Homo sapiens: one gene and its partner. The protein of the gene in region 1 purifies or fractionates together with the protein of each later gene. This does not show direct contact. Each region holds a gene or a part of one and is shown in the gene's direction. Other genes may lie near its edges. The genes, in order: HJURP and DUS1L.

Region 1 (10,428 bases):
TTCCTGGCCCCCGTGTCACACTCTGTTGCCTGCCAGAATACCTGATGCATGGTTTTCCTCTAAAATTGCTACTTTTGTGCAGAGGGTTTCCCACGCACCCATGTGTGACTTTCAGTGACTAAGAAAAAGGCCGTGGTCCTGGGGAAGAAAGTGGATGCTCACTGAGAGATTGTGTAGGGATTGGAACAAAGGGGAAGTGGGTGGTACCAAGAGTCAAGAACCAAAGTGCCAGCCCCACTCAGCAGAGGATAGAGGGTGACGCCCTCTATTTCCAGTGTCTAGCAGGGGAGGGGTAGGAGAGCCTCCTGAGCTGGAGCACTGAATTTCTGTTTTTGTTTTTGGTTCTTTTGAGATGGAGTTTCACTCTGTCACCCAGGCTGGAGTGCGGTGGGGCAATCTCAGCTCACTGCAACCTCTACTTCCTGGGTTCAAGCGATTCTCCTGCCTCAGCCTCCCAAGTAGCTGGGACTACAGGCGCCCACCACCATGCCCAGCTAATTTTTGTATTGTAGTAGAGATGGACTTTCACCATGTTGGCCAGGCTGGTCTCGAACTCCTGGCCTCAAGTGATCCACCTGCCTCAGCCTCCTAAAGTGCTGGGATTACAGGCATGACCCATCACACCCAGCCAGGAGCACTGAATTTCTTATAAACTTACCAGTTTGAAGTTATTACCAGTAGTTGAGTCCTGAACTCACCTATGAATATTCAGATTTTTTTTTTCCTGGTCTAGCAATGCTGTCATAAACTTCTCTAGACATGGTTTTTTTGTGTGTGTGTGTCTTTTTACATTCTTTTGGATTATTAACATAGCAGGAAGTGAAAAAGTGACTTTGAATAACATCATGGAGGTGAAAGTGACTTTGAGTAGGATCATGTAAAGATTTGTACATTAATGAGCTTGCCAGTTTGTTCCAGAAGCCAAAAGGTCAGCTATACTCAGAAGCTCTTAAAAATTCTGACTTCTCTTTTTTGATCAGCCTGCAGTGCCTCAAAGCCCTTTGAAAAATGAATTAAGAAGGAAATACTTGACCCAAGTGGATATACTGCTACAAGGTGCAGAGTATTTTGAGGTAATCTGTTTCCCAGTTGTTTGTTTTTATATAATTAGATCATAAACTAAATACATTGAGGTACAGTGTTATTATGCTTTTTGTTTTTTCTACAGAACCCATAAAGAGCATTTGAAGTAATGATTTCCAAATTGTTTTATTCACATGCTGACATACTTGCTCTTCTTGAATAAACACTCCAGGTCCCCCAGGGCAGCGCCATCAGGAAGGTGGGAGCCCTGGCAGGGGTGCTCTGCCCACTGTTCTGGGGCAACTCACAGAAAAATCTAGTGGGGCAGCCAGGCACAGTGGCTCATGTCTGTAATCCCAGCACTTTGAGAGGCCAAGGCAGGTGGGTCACTTGAGGTCAGGAGTTTGAGACCAGCCTGGCCAACATGGTGAAATCTCATCTCTACTAAAAATAGAAAAATTAGCTGGGTGTGGTGGTGCGTGCTTGTAATCCCAGCTACTTGGGAGGCTAAGGCAGGATAATCGCTTGAACCCAGGAGGCGGAGGTTGCAGTGAGCTGAGATTGTGCCACTGTGCTCCAGCCAGGGTGATAGAGCAAGACTCTATCTCAAAAAAAAAAAAATCTATTGGGGCCACACACGGGACTCTTAAGAGCAGCCCTGACCTCTGGACCAGGATTTGAAGCTGCATAGTTAGGGAAGCAATAGTCCCCACATTCCCTGGTGCGATCAGGCTAGAATCAGCTGCAAGGTGAGGAGGCTGACCCTTGGCACCTGTCCCGCCTGCTGAGAGGTCATGTTGGGAGGGGGGGGATGTGATGGCATGAGAGGTGGGCACACTCACCTGCCAACCCCTCTCTTAAGGTCAGTGCCCTCTGCCATAGAATAAAGGACATTGCAACACCAAATACTTAGGAAGTACACATTGCAGAATAAGAATTCATCTCCAGAAAAAGGCAGCAATCTCACAGGGGTGTATGTGTTTTCTTACTGTGCTGCTGACCAGCGGAAAGCCTGTATTTGTGGACCACCGACTTAGTGGATGTACCTGAAATGCTTTTTCCTTTAACCCAAGGCAGCAAGTGGTGTCCTCTTGGTTGCTGTGTTGATCCAGGGAACAGATTAGGGTTAGGAACGAACGGATCTACTGGGTCTTCTTTGTCCACCGTCCGGTTGGCCCCTAGGTGTTCTTGTGGTCTGAGTATAATGCTAGACAAAGAAAGCTACCAGCGCCCCTGGGGTAAGAAGTTACTGGCAGGTGAGTGGTGACTGTGGCTGGAAGCTATCCTGGAGACCACATCAACTGTCCAGATCTTAGTAGGACATATTTTCTTCCCACTGCCCGAAGCCTAGCTGGCCACTGTCACCACATTCACACGCTTGTCGACATGGCTGTGCTAAGATGCACAGTCCGCATCGTCAGGGGAGAACCCAGCTCCTTGCACCCAGTTGACACCTGGCAACTTTTTTCTTGTAACCACTGGCTCTGATTTCAGTGTGCAGGTAACAGAGCTGGAAGGGATGTACGTGTGACTCCGCTGCCTTCACTGGCCTCACCTGCCGTGCCTGCCCCCGGTGAGTGTGACATAGAAACTGTATGAACAGTGCGTGTTTCCTTCACTTTTGTTGGAGCTGCGTGGCCCCTCAGAGCTGCTCATACTGGCCACGCCATCATTTCCTGGTGTGTTTCATCAACATAACTTGTTAGAGATATACTTGGATTTCACTGGAAGATTAAGATGTTTCAAAATGAGCTGTTTTCTCCTCCACGTCTGCTCTTTATTCCAGTTTACTAGCTTGAAAAGTTTTGCATCTCCAGAAGCACAGGACTAGTACAGTGAACACCCTTCACTTGTTTCACAATTAACATGTTGTCATATCTGCGTTATCACCCCCTGCCACACACGTGCACACACAGTGTGTATTTATTTGCATTTGTGTATGCATTTATCCCTAAATGCCTCACACATACCTCCAAAAATCGGCTAATTCTCCTTTATGACTACAGTACGCTTAACACAGGCCAGAAATTGAACATTGATGCGGTACTGTTCTACCCATTGTGCCAGTGACGTCCTTTGCAGCCTTTCTGGTTTGCCTGATCGTTTCCGGACCCACTCAGGCTGGTACCACCGTTGCGTTTAGTCTCCCTCCATCAAGAGCGGCTCCTTGGCATTTTCTCCCTCATGGTCACCTTTCATATTATTGCCTTTCTTGAATAGCACAGGCCAGTAATTTTGCAGAATGTCCCTGAATTTGGACCTGATTGCTTCCTCGTGGTTAGGTTCACGTTAAACATTTTTGGCAAAATTACTACAGGGATGACGTGTCCTCTCAGAACATTTGGTCAGTCTGTCCCATTCTTGGTGACTTTTAGGCTGGTCATTGAGTTAAGGTAAGACCTTACTTCGATGTTTCTCATTGCGACAGGCCCTTTTTCCCTGGAGTCATCTATGTGTGATTCTTTGAGATCTCCTAGGAACCTTTTCTCTAAAAGCTTCTCACCCAGTGACTTAGAAGCCAGCAATGCGGATCGCCTGGGTGGAGGTCCCCGCCCAGGTTGTTTCTGTCTCTGCCGTTCCTTGGCACACGTCAGTTGGCATTATTCTGCTCAAAAGAGCTATCTCCCCTCTGGTTCTTTTTTTTGCTTCCTGTAGTTCCCTCTCATGCTTTGATTTATTTTATTTTTATTTTTTAGGATCAGTAGGAATTCATGGAGTCTTTTTGTTCTTTGATTCACATGTTATAATCCATTGCCGGTATGCAATTTGACGCTCAAGTAACCCCAGATTTAGCTGTCAGGGAGCCCCTTTCAGGCTGGCTTTTGTGTCGTGTAGTGCAACGACATGCGTTTTTGAGCACTTCTTCACCCCTGCCCTGATGCCATATCTGCCTCTCCCAGTTCTCACCAGCCGCAGTGAGTTAACACGTGCTCATCTGGTCAATTGTACAGCATAAAATAACTCTAGCATTGCAGCACCTGCTACCACTCTTCACAACCATCTACTAAATAAGCTTGAAAATTTCCAAGCAGCTCTTTTTATCCTTAGACAATATCTCTTTAAGAGGCAGACACTCAGAGTATTTGGACTCTTTTTTTTTCTCTTTATCAATTTAACATACAGATTTTTTTTTTGTTTGTGTTCAATTTTATGGTTTTTTCCCATCACTGTTGGTTTTTTTTTTTTAAATATAGGAAACATTTACATGATGCAAAAGTCAAAGCTATATGAAGAGGTTTGTTTAGAAGTCTTACACCCCTTCCCATCCATGTAGGTAAACAGTGTTGTCATTTTTCAGTTTCTAATTAGCTTTTGAAAAGGCATCCATCTTCTAAACAGCCTAGAGGGAAAGGAAGACACCTTTGGGAAATGTACGATGGAGAGTAGAAATCAAATTTTGATACCAAAAAATATCTCTGAGAAGAGTCTACTCCTACACATTTGTGGTGTTTTTGTTTTTGCTATTGCTTAAAAAAACATAGTCCTGATCCAATCTTAAGTTCTGTCATCTGTGCACATGGATGGTTTAGAATGGTAACACACCTTTACTTTATGTGTATCTTTTCTCCCAGGATACTGCAGTCGTATCTCCAGAAAGAGTCCTGGTGACCCAGCGAAACCAGCTTCATCTCCCAGAGAATGGGATCCTTTGCATCCTTCCTCCACAGACATGGCCTTAGTACCTAGAAATGACAGCCTCTCCCTACAAGAGACCAGTAGCAGCAGCTTCTTAAGCAGCCAGCCCTTTGAAGATGATGACATTTGCAATGTGACCATCAGTGACCTGTACGCAGGGATGCTGCACTCCATGAGCCGGCTGTTGAGCACAAAGCCATCAAGCATCATCTCCACCAAAACGTTCATCATGCAAAACTGGAACTCCAGGAGGAGGCACAGATATAAGAGCAGGATGAACAAAACATATTGCAAAGGAGCCAGACGTTCTCAGAGGAGCTCCAAGGAGAACTTCATACCCTGCTCTGAGCCTGTGAAAGGGACAGGGGCATTAAGAGATTGCAAGAACGTATTAGATGTTTCTTGCCGTAAGACAGGTTTAAAATTGGAAAAAGCTTTTCTTGAAGTCAACAGACCCCAAATCCATAAGTTAGATCCAAGTTGGAAGGAGCGCAAAGTGACACCCTCGAAGTATTCTTCCTTGATTTACTTCGACTCCAGTGCAACATATAATCTTGATGAGGAAAATAGATTTAGGACATTAAAATGGTTAATTTCTCCTGTAAAAATAGTTTCCAGACCAACAATACGACAGGGCCATGGAGAGAACCGTCAGAGGGAGATTGAAATCCGATTTGATCAGCTTCATCGGGAATATTGCCTGAGTCCCAGGAACCAGCCTCGCCGGATGTGCCTCCCGGACTCCTGGGCCATGAACATGTACAGAGGGGGTCCTGCGAGTCCTGGTGGCCTTCAGGGCTTAGAAACCCGCAGGCTGAGTTTACCTTCCAGCAAAGCAAAAGCAAAAAGTTTAAGTGAGGCTTTTGAAAACCTAGGCAAAAGATCTCTGGAAGCAGGTAGGTGCCTGCCCAAGAGCGATTCATCTTCATCACTTCCAAAGACCAACCCCACACACAGCGCAACTCGCCCGCAGCAGACATCTGACCTTCACGTTCAGGGAAATAGTTCTGGAATATTTAGAAAGTCAGTGTCACCCAGCAAAACTCTTTCAGTCCCAGATAAAGAAGTGCCAGGCCACGGAAGGAATCGTTACGATGAAATTAAAGAAGAATTTGACAAGCTTCATCAAAAGTATTGCCTCAAATCTCCTGGGCAGATGACAGTGCCTTTATGTATTGGAGTGTCTACAGATAAAGCAAGTATGGAAGTTCGATATCAAACAGAAGGCTTCTTAGGAAAATTAAATCCAGACCCTCACTTCCAGGGTTTCCAGAAGTTGCCATCATCACCCCTGGGGTGCAGAAAAAGTCTACTGGGCTCAACTGCAATTGAGGCTCCTTCATCTACATGTGTTGCTCGTGCCATCACGAGGGATGGCACGAGGGACCATCAGTTCCCTGCAAAAAGACCCAGGCTATCAGAACCCCAGGGCTCCGGACGCCAGGGCAATTCCCTGGGTGCCTCAGATGGGGTGGACAACACCGTCAGACCGGGAGACCAGGGCAGCTCTTCACAGCCCAACTCAGAAGAGAGGTAGGTGTGTTTCTGTTGGTTGAATGTGGTTTATGTGAGTGACTGCTCTTTGGACAGAGGCTTTTTATGGTAGGAATCTTTGCGCCACGTTTAGTGAATCTCAGCCGAATTCTTACATACGTGATCATTTTCTGAGCTTTCTCCCAAATGCTTTTCCTTCCTGTAAAGTCAGCGTCTCTATCAAGAATGTGTCCCTGTGTAAGATGCATCGAGGTAAAGCAGAAAGTGCTCTTGCAGAAGTTTCACACTTTCCATTAGAATGCATTCAGAGGCTTTTTTCCTGCAAATCCTCACTTACTACGCTTTATTCGTCTTTGTCAAACCTTCATTTCTAACCTCTTCATCTGACACTCAGAAAATAGCTGTTGTAAGGCGAAAGTGATCTAAAGCGAATGACTTCCTATTTCTGGATTCCTGGTAGGGAAAGAGCAAGAGTGGCCTGGGAGAGCCACGAGCACAGTATTCTCACAGGTGCGAGGGGTGCCCTGCAGATATCTCAGTGCTCAGTGTTAAAACTTCTGCACCTTGTTCTGCAGCTTAATTTGTGCGAATCATGTCAGCTAGAGTTTTAGTCTGCGTGTGCCCTTTTCTCTAGAGACAGTGGGGTGGGGTGGGTCAGTGGGAGTGAGTACCTTTGTTGGCATTAAAGGTTGGATTCCCCAGCACAGCTTCTCTGTGTGTCCACAGTCAGGATCTGGAGGATGCGACTTTCTTAACCCACAGGTGGACGGGACTTGACTGTGGGTTTGATTTGGCCGGTTCCTTTGGGTTTTGTGTGTTTGTGGTTCCAGCAGGTGAGGCCGTGTCTCCAGTATCCTCTTCCCTTGTGCCCTAGCCTGGCGATGTGCCTCTTCTCTGAGGTCATTTGGGTGGACCCTGCCTGCCATAAGTGTCCCATTTTCTGTTTCTCCCACCTGGACCCGCCTGGCCTGCGAGCCCTTCTCAGCCACTGGCTCCTGCCGTGCGTCCAGCTCAGAACCAAGGTCTGGTATGCCTTGTTCCTTCTGTGGTGCCTGCCTTCGAAGCCTGCAGTCCCGCCTGTGCATGGCAGAGACCACACTCTCAGACCGCCAGCGGCCTCCTGTGGCTTGAGCCCCCTGGGGCCTTTCTCACTGTCACTCTGTCTTCCCAATGCCCTTGGACTGCTCAGGGCCACCTGCTCCAGGGTCTGCCGTAGGACAGCCCTTCCCTTCCAGGGAACTTTCACTGGCATTCTCCCCCTACTCCCCAGTTCTTTGCTATTGCATCCTCGGACATCCTCCCTAGACTCCACCCACCGCTCAGCTGCCTGCTCCGTGCAGGTAACCCCCACCCTCCCAGGGGCTGCACATGGTGGGTGCTGCAGTGGGGAGCTGTCTGGACACAGACCAGTCTCATGGGTTAGCGGCTCAGGCTCCTTGGCTCAGTTCTAGAAGCTCCCAGGTTTTGTTGGATGTTTTGGTTTTCAAAGTTATTTTCGTGTATAAAGTCATACTGTGTGAGCTAACCAGAAGCAGATGAAACAAGCCTTGGTTGTCATCTGTCTTCCCAGTTGAGGATGGACATACGTAAGTGTTCAGGTGATGGGAAAGGTTTTTCTCTGCAGGGCCCCAGCTAGGGTCAGGGGCACTGTGTGGGCAGGGCCCTCGGAGCTCCTCCCCTGGCAGTGCACGGCTAACAGCAGTCTTTCCCTCGGGTCTTGGTCTCCAACTGTGTGCCTGATGCCCACTCCTGTGCCCACTTGGGGCTTTTTCAGACCAAACCACCAGCCGGGTGACTTTCAGCCACAGTTAGTGAAGCCTTCAAGAATCTCAGCTACATCTTCATGGCAGACACTTCATGGAGGCTGCTTTGAGGCAAAGTTTATGCGTTCTGTTTAACAGATGACCTCTCAAGAGTCTCCTTCTCAGTTGAAAGGGGAGAATTTCACCAAAAACAACTGTCCGGCCCAGAGAGAGATCTGAGGTTTCTCCTGGTCTCCCACACATCAGAGCTCCTCTGCTCTGCTCGTCCTGCTTGTCTAAACCTAACTGCTTTTTCTCAGATAGTGCCCCAGCTCTTCCTTTTACCATCATCCTGCCCCTGGGATTTTGTCTCGTGCCTTTTCCCACCTTGTTCCATGATCTGGCACCGTGCCAGTCGCCTGCAGACCCCTTTCCATGAGTGACATCTGCCCCAGTGCTCCGTGCAGAGGCTCCTGCCTTGCTTTTTCACCTGCTCAGTCTAAAGGGCTTTCTTCTGGCCCAGCCACACAGGAGGGACCTCGGCCTTGTAGAGAATGGTGTGAGGTTGCATTATTGTGGGACCATCCTGAGGACTCAGCCCTTGGTGGCCCCGCAGGGCCCTCCCAGCTACCCTGGAATTTGATAGCAAGTCAAATCATGAACACCCCAGGTTTCATTTTAAACCACAATATAAACATGTTTAACTGGTTTCCTATGTTTTTCTGCTTTTCCCGCTTAAATGATAGATTTCTTGAGGAAAGAGACCAATTCTTCATGAGCTGCAACTACATATGGAGTTTTCATGCCTAACGTCTGAGTGCTCTCTGTGTGCCAGGCCATGCTGAACCGTTTTTACGTCTTATCTTCTTTCATCCCCACCAGAACCCCTTGATTAGATCGATTCTGTCCAATAGGCAGGCTGTCTCTCCTTTTAATAGATATGGAAAAGTAGCTTAAGTCTTAGAACTCCTAAATTCACTCGTGCAGCAGCGCTAGCTGGGCCAGGGTGTGGGATGTGGACTTCCCCACCAGCTTGTGCTCCCTGGGGGAGTGTGGGGAGCAGGGTCGGGGGGTTGCCATTATATTTTTGTTGTTTCTTTAACATAACTTACTTATTTAACGTAATGCCACTTTCTATAAGTATTTTTATACATGCAATGGAATAAGTAGAAAACAGTTAACCTTTTAGTGGCTGGCATTGGGAATTCTAGAATTTTGCTAACATCATTTTCTTTGTCTTTTTTTTTTCCTAGAGGAGAGAACACGTCTTACAGGATGGAAGAGAAAAGTGATTTCATGCTAGAAAAATTGGAAACTAAAAGTGTGTAGCTAGGTTATTTCGGAGTGTTATTTATCTTCCCACTTGCTCTCTGTTTGTATTTTTGTTTTGTTTTTGATTCTTGAGACTGTGAGGACTTGGTTGACTTCTCTGCCCTTAAAGTAAATATTAGTGAAATTGGTTCCATCAGAGATAACCTCGAGTTCTTGGTGTAGAAATTATGTGAATAAAGTTGCTCAATTAGAATTTTTAGGGTTCTCTTTGATAGGCCTGTTTTTCTGATGTGTGTGTTTTTTTTGGGGGGGGGTTATTTGTTTGTTTGTTTGTTTGTTTGTTTGTTTTTGAGACAGTCTCTCTCTATCGCCCAGGCTGGAGTGCGGTGGCACAATCTTGGCTCACTGCAACTTCCGCCTCCCGGGTTCAAGCGATTCTTCTGCCTCAGCCTCCCGAGTAGCTGGGATTACAGGCGCGCGCCACCACGCCTGGCTAATTTTTGTAGTTTTAGTAGAGACGGGGTTTCACCATATTGACCAGGCTGGTCTCGAGCTCCTGGCCTCGTGATCCATCTGCCTCGGCCTCCCAAAGTGCTGGGATTATAGGCGTGAGCCACTGCTCCCAGCCGTGTGTTCTTTTTTAAATTTAGATATGTCCAGAGAATCCTCTCTCCTGTTTCCCATTTCATTCGAGAATATTGTTTGCTTGTGAGACGTAAGTTCGAGCCCTGCATGCAATGACCCTTGAAGGAAAATAAACAGTCCTGGTGGTCCCAGACGCTCCTGCAGCCACAGCGCCTGTGACTCCTCATGATTCTTACTGAAGCTGTTGATGACAGGATATCATGGTGACGTTTTTGTAATGAAATATTTCACATATTCAGAATACATTGGTGAAACTCATGCTGGAGTAAATAGTTAATATATGGCCATATGAGTTTGGGTTTTTTTTTTTTATGAAAGATTTAAAATGAGATTAAATTACACATTTTTCATTCCCGCCTGCCGCCCCAGGCGATTGCTCTCCTGATGTCAGGTATCACCCCCATACCCTGCCCCATATCTCTTCCCCCCTGCGTCTTACATTGGGACCATGTTATGTGTGTGTGTGCGTGCGCACCTGCATGCTCAGGCTGCCATAACAATGCTGGAGACCAGGTGGCTTAAACAGTAGAAGTTTATTTTCTCACAGTTTTTGAAGACTAGAAGTTTAAGACAAGGGAGCCAGCATGGTTGGGCTCCGGTGAGGACTCTTCCTGGC
Region 2 (10,587 bases), on another chromosome or scaffold:
CAAGTGATTCTCCTGCCTCGGCCTCCCTAGTAGCTGGGATTACAGGCACCCGCCACCACACCCGGCTAATTTTTGTATTTTTAGTAGAGACGGGGTTTCACCATGTTGGCCAGGCTGGTCTCAAATTCCTGACCTCAGGTGATTCACCTGCCTCAGCCTCCCAAAGTGCTGGGATTACAGACATGAGCCACTGCACCCAGCCAAAATTTTCCTTTTAGGAACTGCTTTATTGCATCCCACATATTTTGAAATGTGTTTTCATTTGCATTAACTTCAAAATATTTTTAAATTTTCCTTTTGGTTTCTTCTTTGACCCATGGGTTACTCAGAAGTGTGTTATTAATTTTCAAGTATTTGTGCATACCTCAAATTTCTATTTTTGTTTGTTTCTTATTTATTTATTTAGACATGGTCTCATTCTGTTGCCCAGGCTGGAGTGCAGTGGTGCAATCTCAGCTCACTGCAACCCCTGCCTCCTGGGCTCAAAACATCCTCCCATCTCAGCCTCCCAAGTAGCTGTGATTCAAGCACATGCCAACACACTCAACTAATTTTTAACTTTTTTTTTGTAGAGCTGAGGTCTCACTCTATTGCCCAGGCTGATCTCAAACTCCTGGACTCAAGCAATCCTCCCACCTCAGTCTCCCAAACTGCTGGGATTATAGGCATGAGCCAGTGTGTGTGGCCTGATTTCTAATTTAATTCCACTGTGGCTAGAGAATAGCTTTCCAATTATTTTAATTTTAATTTTTTTTTGAGATGAAGTCTCACTCTGTTGCCCAGGCTGGAGGGAAAATGTTTTATTGTGTCTTCTTTAATGGCCTAGTATATGGTGTAGCCATGGGTGAAGTGTTCCATAAATGTCTGTCAAGTCAGATTGATTGATAGTGTTTCTCAAATCTCCTACATCTTTGCCAGTTTCTTGTCTAGTTGTCCTATTTCATTATTGAGAGTAAGGTACTGAAATCTTCAACTATTATTGTTAAATTGTCTATTTCTCCCTTCTTTTTTTTCACTCTTTTCATTATTAATTTGGGGGCTCTATTGTTTGGTGCTTATGTGTTTCTAATTGTTACATCTTACTAATGAATGGACATGTTTATCATCATAAAATATCGGTATGGGCTGGGTGCAGTGGCTTACACCTGTAATCCCAGCACTTTGGGAGGTAAAGGTAGGAGGATGGCTTGAGCCCAGGAGTTTGAGACCACTCTGGGTGACAAAGTGAGACCCTCATTTCTACAAAAAACAAAAAAATTAGCTGGACATGGTGATGTGTATCTATGGTCCCAGCTACTTGACAGGCTGAGGCAGGAGGACTGCTTGAATGCAGGAAGTTGATGCTACAGTGAAGCCATGTTCACATCACTGCACTCTAGCCTAGGTGACAGAGCGAGACCCTGCCTCAAAAAAAAAAAAAAGAAAGAAAGAAAGAAAGAAAGAAAGAAAGAAAGAAAGAAAAAGAGTCTGTATGTGTCTCTAGTGATATATTTTATCTTCATATCTATTTTGTCTGACATTAGTATAACCATTCCCGTTCTCTTTTTTTTTTGAGACGGAGTCTCGCTCTGTCGCCCAGGCTGGAGTGCAGTGGCACGATCTTGGCTTACTTCACTACAAGCTCCGCCTCCCGGGTTCACGCCATTCTCCTGCCTCAGCCTCCCCGAGTAGCCGGGACTACAGGCGCCCACCACCACGCCCAGCTAATTTTTTGTATTTTTAGTAGAGACGGGGTTTCACCGTGTTAGCCAGGATGGTCTCGATCTCCTGACCTCATGATCCGCCAGCCTCAGCCTCCCAAAGTGCTGTGATTACAGGCATGAGCCCCTGCGCCCAGCCTCCAGTTCTCTTTTGGGTGCCGTTTATATGGTATATCTTTTCTCGTATTTTCACTTTCAACCGGTTTGTGTCTTTGAGTCTAAAGTGTGTAGATTGTGGCCAGGTGAGGTAGCTCACACCTGTAATCCCAGCACTTTGGGAGGCCAAGGCGGGCAGAAAACCTGAGGTCAGGAGTTCGACATCAGCCTGGCCAACATGGTGAAACCCCATCTCTACTAAAAAGACAAAAATTAGCCAGACATAGTGGTGGGTGCCTGTAATCCCAGCTACTTGGGAGGCTGAGGCAGGAGGATCTCTTGAACCCAGGAGTTGGAGGTTGTAGTGAGCCAAGACTGCGCCATTGCACTCCAGCCTGGGCAACAAGAGGGAAACTCCATCTCAAAAAGATAAATAAAATAAAAAAATAAGGTATATTGAATGTAAAGAGCATATAGTTGGATCTTGTTTATTTCTTAACCCACTCCGAAAATCTTGGCCTTTTACTTGGAGTGTTCATTACCGTTTAATGGTATTATTGATACAGTTAGATTTACATATGCCACTAGTTTTTTTTCTTTGTTTAGTTTTTGTTTTGTTTTGTTTGAGGCAGAGTCTTGCTCTGTCACCCTGACTGGAGTGTAGTGGTGCTATCTCAGCTCACTGCAACCTCCCCCTCCTGGGTTCAAGCGATTCTCCTGCCTCAGCCTCCCCAGTAGCTGGGGTTACAGGCTCACGCCACCACATCCGGCTAATTTTTGTACTTTTAGTAGAGATGGGGTTTCTACTAAATTAGCCCTATGCCTGGCTAATTTCTGTATTTTTACAAAAATTATGTATTTCGTATGTATTTTTTTATTTCTCTGTTCTGCTATTGCCTTTGTTGTGTTAAATGGATATTTTCCACTGTACCATTTTAATTTCTTTTATATATAATATAATGTATTTTCTTTTTTTTTTTTTTTTTTGAGACAGAGTCTCGCTCTGTCATCCAGGCTGGAGTGCAGTGGCGCAGTCTCCGCTCACTGCAAGCTCAGCCTCCCAGGTTCCCGCCATTCTCCTGCCTCCGCCTCTCAAGTAGCTGGGACTACAGGGGACCGCCACCACGCCTGGCTAATTGTTTTGTATTTTTAGTAGAGACGGCGTTTCATCATGTTAGCCAAGATGGTCTTGATCTCCTGACCTCATGATCCGCCCGTCTCGGCCTCCCAAAGTGCTGGGATTACAGGCGTGAGCCACCGTGCCTGGCCTATATAATGTATTTATTTTCTTATGATTACTATGGGGATTTCAACAAGCATCGTAATTTATCACAATCTTCTTCAGATTAATACTTAATTCCAGTAAAACACAGAAACTTTGCTCCAATATAATTCCCTTCCCTCTTCCTTTTTGCTGCATTTTTCATATAATTATATGTCTCTATATATTATAACCTCTTTATAGTTACAAGTTATACACCATAAGTTATATTTTTATTATTTATTTATTTATGTTGAGACGGAGTCTCGCTCTGTCGCCCAGGCTGGAGTGCAGTGGTGCCATCTCGGCTCACTGCAAGCTCCGCCTCCTGGGTTCATGCCATTCTCCTGCCTCAGCCTCCCGAGTAGCTGGGACTATAGGCGCCCGCCACCATGCCCGGCTAATTTTTTTCGTATTTTTAGTGGAGACGGGGTTTCACCATGTTAGCCAGGATGGTCCCGATCTCCTGACCTCATGATCCGCCCGTCTCGGCCTCCCAAAGTGCTGAGATTACAGGCATGAGCCGCCGCGCCCGGCTAAAAGGCAAAAGATTCATATGATCTGGGCTGGGCGTGGTGGCTCATGCCTGTAATCCCAGCATTTTAGGAGGTCGAGATGGGCAGATCATGAGGTCAGGAGATCGAAACCATCCTGGCTAATGGTGAAACCCCATCTCTACTAAAAATACAAAAAATTAGCCGGGTGTGGTGGCGGGCACCTGTAGTCCCAGCTACTCGGGAGGCTGAGGCAGGAGAATCGCTTGAACCTGGGAGGTGGAGCTTGCAGTGAGCAGAGATCGTGCCACCGCCCTCCAGCCTGGGTGACAGAGCGAGACTCTGTCTTAAAAAAAAAATCTTTTACCTTTTACAATTACTGGTTCGATACTGTGCTTAAATATTCTGAACCAGTAGGGCCTCCAGCCTCTGCTGATGGCGCTGTGTGTGGGTTGTGGCTGCATTTGGAATTCAGGTAGTTTTTACAATTTGGACTTGGCTTTTACTTTTTGCTTGTACAAAGCCTCACGTTCAGCCAGGGCGGTGGACAGCTGGGGCCCTCGCCTGTCTTTCCTTAGTGTGCACCCAACCTTGCAGTCCACCAGGGACATCTGGCCACCTCTGAAGACCACCAAGGCTGTTCTATCTGTGAATGCAGAAAATCTGAGACAGGTCTCAGTTAATTTAGAAGGTTTATTTTGCCAAGGTTGAGGACATGCCCATGGCACAGCCTCAGGAGGTCCTGACAACATGTGCCTGAGGTGGTTGGGGCACAGCTTGGTTTTATACATTTTAGGGAGACATGAGACATCAATCAATATATGTAAGATGAACATAGCGGCTAGCTGCGGTGGCTCACGCCTGTAATCCCAGCACTTTGGGAGGCCAGCGGATCACCTGATGTCAGGAGTTCGAGACCAGCCTGGCCAACATGGTGAAACCCCCATCTCTACTAAAAATACTAAAATTAGCTGGGTGTGTTGGTGGGTGCCTGTAATCCCAGTTATTTGGGAAGCTGAGGGAGGAGAATCGCTTGAACCTGGGAGATGGAGGTTGCAGTGAGCCGAGATCACGCCACCGCACTCCAGCCTGGGTCAGAAAGCGACTCCGTCTCAAAAAAAAAAATTGGTTCAGTCTGGAAAGGCGGGACAATTTAAAGCAAAAGCCATCGGGGAGGGAGCTTCCTGGTCACAGATAGGTGATACACAAACGGTTACATTGTTTTGAGTTTCTGATTAGCCTTTTTTTTTTTTCTTTTCCTTTTTGATCAGTCTTGCTCTGTCGCCAGGCTGGAGTACAATGGCTTGATCTCGGCTCACTGCAACCTCCGCCTCCCAGGTTCAAGCGATTCTCCTGCCTCAGCCTCCCGAGTAGCTGGGACTACAGGGGCGCACCACCACACCTGGCTAATTTTGTATTTTCAGTAGAGACAGGGTTTCACCGTGTTGGCCAGGCTGGTCTCGAACTCCTGGTCTCAATGTGCGCCACCGCGCCCAGCCTTCTGATGAGCCTTTTCAAAGGAGTCAGTCAGATATCCATCTATCTCAGCGAGCAGAGGGTGACTCTGAATAGAGCGGGAGGCAGGTTTGCCCTGAGCAGCTTCCAGCCTGAGTTTTCCTTAGTGATTCCGGGGGCCCAAGAGATTTCACATGTTTTAGGTACTGAATGTCCTGGTTCAACTTCGGGCTTCGCTCTCAGATATGGAAAGCTCTGACAAAGCTGCTTTTTACATCTGTTGGGTCTCAAATGCCTTCAGTTTAAAATAACCTTCACATCCACTCTGGGGTTCCCAGTGGGTCCCCACAGCTCGAAATAACCCAAGGAGGGTCCACGGCGGGTAGGAAAGTCGATCGAAGGCTGGCGGCTGCGGAAACCCAGGGCGGGCAAGGAAGGTCCCTGGAGGGTGATTTTCCGCAACGCAGCGGCGGAAAGTGAGTGGCTTTCAGAGGCGGCAGGTGAGTGGGTTCGAGGCAGGGCTCTGGGGCCGCTTTAGGATATAACGGGATGAAGCCCCCAATGCGAACTTGGGGGCTGGGCAGCGCAGGGCCTCAGCGCCCACGGTCTACCCGCGGCCCGGGCCTTATGTGCGCCTCAGCGAGGCCCAATTTCCACATGCCTCGTTTCCAGCGAGCTGTCGGTGAGTCCCGGCGAGCCCCGACCCCTCTCTAGCCACGGCCTGACGGGTACGGTGGTGACCTCAGCCTCTGACCTCCGACCCCGCGCCGCGACCTCTCGTCGCCGGTCCCCTCGGAGCCGGGCGCGGTTTCCGGGGAACGCGTTTCCCGCCGCACCGTGGGCCGCCCGGACCGCGCAGGACCGGGCACCTTCCGGTGGCGGCGCGGAGCCTTGGGCCCGGCTGCGGCCCGGCGGCGGCCCCGGCGCGGTGCGGGCGTTCGCGGCGCCCCGGGAGCTGCAGGGGCCCCGGGCGGCGGCGAGGCCGGAGAGGGGCGGGCCCGGGACACCGGCACCCGGCGCCCTCGGAGCCAAAGGCGCGCGGCGGACACGGCGGGGCCCTCGCGCGGTGAGGACGCGGAGGCGTGTGGGCTCCTGTCACTTCACACAGCAAACGCTGCCCGCCGCGTGGCTCCGGAGGAGTCTCGCGAGGGGCGCCCCTGTGGCGTTTCGGGCCAGCCGGGCCGCCTGGCCGGGTGCGGAGAAGGAAGCTCTGCCCTTCCCCTGGCCCGGCGCGGAGCCGATTCTCCCGGGAAGGGGCCGGGGGTCCTAACTTCACCGCCGGGCGGCCTGCTCAGGGCCAGGCCCGCGGGGACGCTGGCGTCAAGGTTTCTTCCCCCTTCACGCCAGTCCCCTACCAGGCCGACATCGAGTCCCGCTCCCCAGGGAGGGTCAAGTCCCAGGGGTCCAGCGGCTCCCCCGAGGTCCGCTAGGAGGTGGCGGCACTGGAGTGGCCGTTCTCCAGCCTGCACCGACCCCCGCCTTTAGTGCCCCCGCGTGTGACCCAACGGTGGTACTGGAGCGGCCTTAGAAGGGTGACCGCTGCCTCTGAGTTGAGTCTTAAGCCCCTCGTTGGGCCTGGCTGAACCCCGGGTCTGCGCCTTTCCCCCAGCCTGGAGACGATGCCAAAGCTGCAGGGCTTCGAGTTCTGGAGCCGCACCCTGCGAGGGGCCCGCCACGTCGTGGCCCCCATGGTGGACCAGAGCGAGCTGGCCTGGAGGCTGCTGAGCCGGCGCCACGGGGCACAGCTCTGCTACACGCCCATGCTGCATGCCCAGGTCTTTGTCCGCGACGCCAACTACCGGAAGGAGAACCTGTACTGCGAGGTGTGCCCCGAGGACCGGCCCCTCATCGTGCAGGTGCGCAGGAGGGGCTGTGGCCGCGGCCGCGGTTGGGTTCCCGGTCCTGGAATGCCTGGGGAAAAACCCTTCTCTCTGTGGCGGGACATCACTTTCAGCCTTTCCAGAGACAGCTCAATTCCAGGAGGAGAGGGAGAAGGTGGCACCAGGCATGTAGAGTCCACGTAGCCACAGCAGTGATTCCTGTGGTGGAGCCAGGGCTGCCAGGTGCACCTGCCAGAATCCAACCCCATTCTCTAGGAGTGGCTCAGGCAGCCTGGGTGCTGTGAGGTTTGCAGCCCTGCTGGGGCCTCTGGATTGCTGCCTCTCACACTCACACTCCCTCTTCAGAACCAGTGGAGATGGCTCTGCTCTTCAGAAGTCAGTGATTGTGGCTTCTGCCACAGTTCAGAAGAAAATCTGTAAATCCGGGTGGCTTGGGGACTCCTCCCGGCTTTGTCATATTGTAAGCCTCCGCAGGACAGAGCACCCTCCTGCAGTGAACCTGGGCCCACACCCTCATGGGGTCACACTGGACCTCTCGTAGGGCTGGGCAGCAAGGGACTAGGGCCTGGCTGGGCCCGTGGCTGACTCCTGCATCTTCTCCAGTTCTGTGCCAATGACCCGGAGGTGTTTGTTCAGGCGGCTCTCCTGGCTCAGGATTACTGTGACGCCATTGACCTGAACTTGGGCTGCCCACAGATGATAGCCAAGAGAGGTGAGCTCCATGTGGAGCATGGGGGCACCTGGGGCAGGGGCCAGAGCCAGCTCAGTGCAGCCCCAGGTGTGGTGAGCTTGGAGGACGGCAGGCCCTGCCTCTGTCGTGACAGTGGCTCAGGCTGGAGCCAGCTGTCCTCTGTGCTCCGCCTCTGGAGGGTGGCTGTCCTCAGGCCTTGGGGGCTAGGGGCCGAGCCCTACTGGCTCTCTCTTCCCTCAGGGAGCTCCCTCTGCATAAACATGATTGCTGATACAGGGTCCCCATTACCCCCTTGCACTGCTGTGTGTGGGGCTGAGCCTGCTACCTCACCGGGCCCCTGAGGAGGTGTTACTTGGTTCCAGACCGTGCAGGGTGGGGGTTCCATTCAGCACCTTCTGAGCTTAGGCAGCTGGGCAAATAGAGCCCCTGAGTCTGATGCCGACAAACCACTGCTCTGACTGTCCCACTGCCCCAACTGGAGACACTGCTGGTTCTGGGGACCTGTGTCCCGCCTGACAGGGCAGCTCCTGGCCTGCGTGGATGCAGGAAAGGGTGCAGAGGGGGTGCAAGGCTTCGGCCCCACCAGCCTTAACACAGGTGCCAGCCAGGCCATGCTTGCTCCTTGCAGGTCACTATGGCGCCTTTCTGCAGGACGAGTGGGACCTGCTCCAAAGAATGAGTGAGTTGGCTGGGTGGATGGTGAAGGACCCCCAGAGACCCTCAAGAGGGACACATGGGCACTGTCCACTTGGTTGGGGCTCAGGAGAGGACAGGCGTTGGCAGGAGTTCTCAGCATCACCCTGGGGCTTCCTGCCCACAGCAGCCTCTCTGCTGGAAGGAGGTGGCTGTGAAGTTGCCTGTCCTGCACCACCCACCCCTTAAAACCAGACAGTAGGTGCCAGGGCAGAGTCCTTGCTCGGGCCCAGCCCCAGATGTCCTGGGAGACAGAGCCGGCCTTGGCCCTGCTTGTTTGAACTTCGGAGGGCCGGGGGTATGGCGGAGGGAGCCTGCCCAGCAACCTGAGGGAGACACCCAGATGGTGGCCCGGGCTGCCTCCCAGCCTCCCGGCAAAGCTGCCTGGGCTCCGCTGTCTGCAGGGCCCTGGGCTCTGGGGCTTGGCCGCTAAAGTGGGAACACCATGGCCCCCTCAGAAGCTGCCTCTCTTCTCCCCAGTTTTGCTGGCCCACGAGAAACTCTCTGTTCCTGTCACGTGCAAAATCCGTGTCTTCCCGGAGATTGACAAGACCGTGAGGTACGCCCAGATGCTGGAGAAGGCCGGCTGCCAGGTGAGCCCTGGGCTCGCGGGGGTGTCATGGGCCTCAGCTGGGCCTTTGCGCAGAGGACATAGCTGAGGCTCTTCCTGTGTCCAGACACCGTGCACCGTCGGCCTCATGGGGGCAGTGGCCCTCCTGACTGGCCTGTCCCCACTGGCTCTGAGTGCCACCACCCCAAGCCCAGGCCTCTACAACAGAAACTGCTTTCCTGGCTCCAGGGTTTTGTCCCTGTGGAGAGAGTAATGTCGGCATCTCTGACATATTCCTAGTGTCACAGAGGCCGGCAGGGCCTCCTTTGGGGATACTCAGCATCCAGTCTCCCTAGAGGGTGAGGAAGGGGCCACCAGGCTGTCAGCAGAGCTGCTCCCCTGCCCGTGTTCCCCGCACACTGAGCCTGGCCTGGCGCGGGCCTGGATGGGCTGCTGTCTCCGGGGGTGCCCCTCAAGACACTCACCTTCTGAAGGTGGACAGCAACCTTGGTGACCCGGGGATGAGCTTGCACAGGGGCTGCCAGGCCCAGGACCCACTTTCCCCCCCAGTGCCCCACTAGCCTGGAGTCAGTCCCTCCCACACCTTTGGCCTTGGGCAGTGGGGATGCTGCCACTTCCCGGCCTGGCTCTTGCATGGGCCTGGGCAGCACATGCAGCCTGAGGTTCCCACAGAGTGCAGAGGCCTTGGGGTAGGCCCCAGATGGCCATTCCTCAGCCCTGCTTCAGGAGCTGATATGGTGAGGGAAAGGTCCCTGCAGTCGGGCATGGGGCACAGGGCTGGGAGGGGCAGAGGGGGCTCGGAGGGGTGGAGTAGGGGCAGAGGGGGCGTGGAGGGGCGGAGGGGGCTCTGAGGGGCGGAAGGGGCTTGGAGGGGTCAAGCGACCACTGCTCTGTCCTAGTTGCTGACGGTGCACGGACGCACCAAGGAGCAGAAGGGGCCCCTGTCGGGTGCAGCGTCCTGGGAGCATATCAAGGCTGTGCGGTGAGTGGGTGTGGGTGACACAGCCCTCAGTCCTTGGGGCTTTGCTGGGGGTCCCAGCTCCACACCTCAGGGTGCTCGGCACGCCTGACGCCCGTGACCACCCAGGGGGCCGTGGCTGGGGGCAGCATCACCTGGGTGCTGTTCCGGGCGGGTGGAAACAGGCATTTCTCTGCCAACAGGAAGGCTGTGGCCATCCCTGTGTTTGCTAACGGGAACATCCAGTGCCTGCAGGACGTGGAGCGCTGCCTCCGGGACACGGGTGTGCAGGGCGTCATGAGCGCAGGTGGGCAGGGCCCAGGACAGCAGCCAGGGCCCCATGCACACGGCCTGATACCACCGCCCAGGTCGGTGCCTCCCACTGCCTACTGCCCTCCCCATGGTGCTGTTCACAGATGGTGTTCATCAATCCCAGTCTGCTCTGATGGGCCTGAGCTGGCCTTGTCCCTTGTGAGGTGGCACAGAAGGGTGTCCTGAGTGTCCCAGGCTTTCCTGTGCCGTCCACCTGGAGCAACCCACGAGGTGTCCTTCCCCGCTCCTCCTCCCACAGAGGGCAACCTGCACAACCCCGCCCTGTTCGAGGGCCGGAGCCCTGCCGTGTGGGAGCTGGCCGAGGAGTATCTGGACATCGTGCGGGAGCACCCCTGCCCCCTGTCCTACGTCCGGGCCCACCTCTTCAAGCTGTGGCACCACACGTGAGTTGCCCCCTAAGGCAGAAGCCACGTTGGAGGGCCGCCCAGGCAGATTCCGTCAGACCCCACCTGGGGCATTTTGCAGGTTTTGTCAAAACAACTTGCTGCTAAGTC

The links.
Region 2: the proteins of HJURP (region 1) and DUS1L purify together in Homo sapiens (affinity purification with mass spectrometry; 2 studies listed by BioGRID and IntAct, with this or other methods). This does not show direct contact.

The regions. Positions count from the first base shown.
Region 1 is NC_000002.12:233,836,373-233,846,800, reverse strand, and holds the end of HJURP (Holliday junction recognition protein), read left to right. Parts: intron 1-980; coding exon 981-1,073; intron 1,074-2,517; coding exon 2,518-2,596; intron 2,597-4,595; coding exon 4,596-6,192; intron 6,193-9,148; coding exon 9,149-9,224; 3' UTR 9,225-10,099; downstream 10,100-10,428. UniProt on the Homo sapiens protein: Centromeric protein that plays a central role in the incorporation and maintenance of histone H3-like variant CENPA at centromeres.
Region 2 is NC_000017.11:82,061,098-82,071,684, reverse strand, and holds the start of DUS1L (tRNA-dihydrouridine(16/17) synthase [NAD(P)(+)]-like), read left to right. Parts: upstream 1-5,880; 5' UTR 5,881-6,072; intron 6,073-6,170; exon of another isoform or gene 6,171-6,331; intron 6,332-6,615; 5' UTR 6,616-6,625; coding exon 6,626-6,862; intron 6,863-7,450; coding exon 7,451-7,559; intron 7,560-8,166; coding exon 8,167-8,217; intron 8,218-8,711; coding exon 8,712-8,824; intron 8,825-9,701; coding exon 9,702-9,784; intron 9,785-9,963; coding exon 9,964-10,067; coding exon of another isoform or gene 10,068-10,128; intron 10,129-10,331; coding exon 10,332-10,476; intron 10,477-10,587.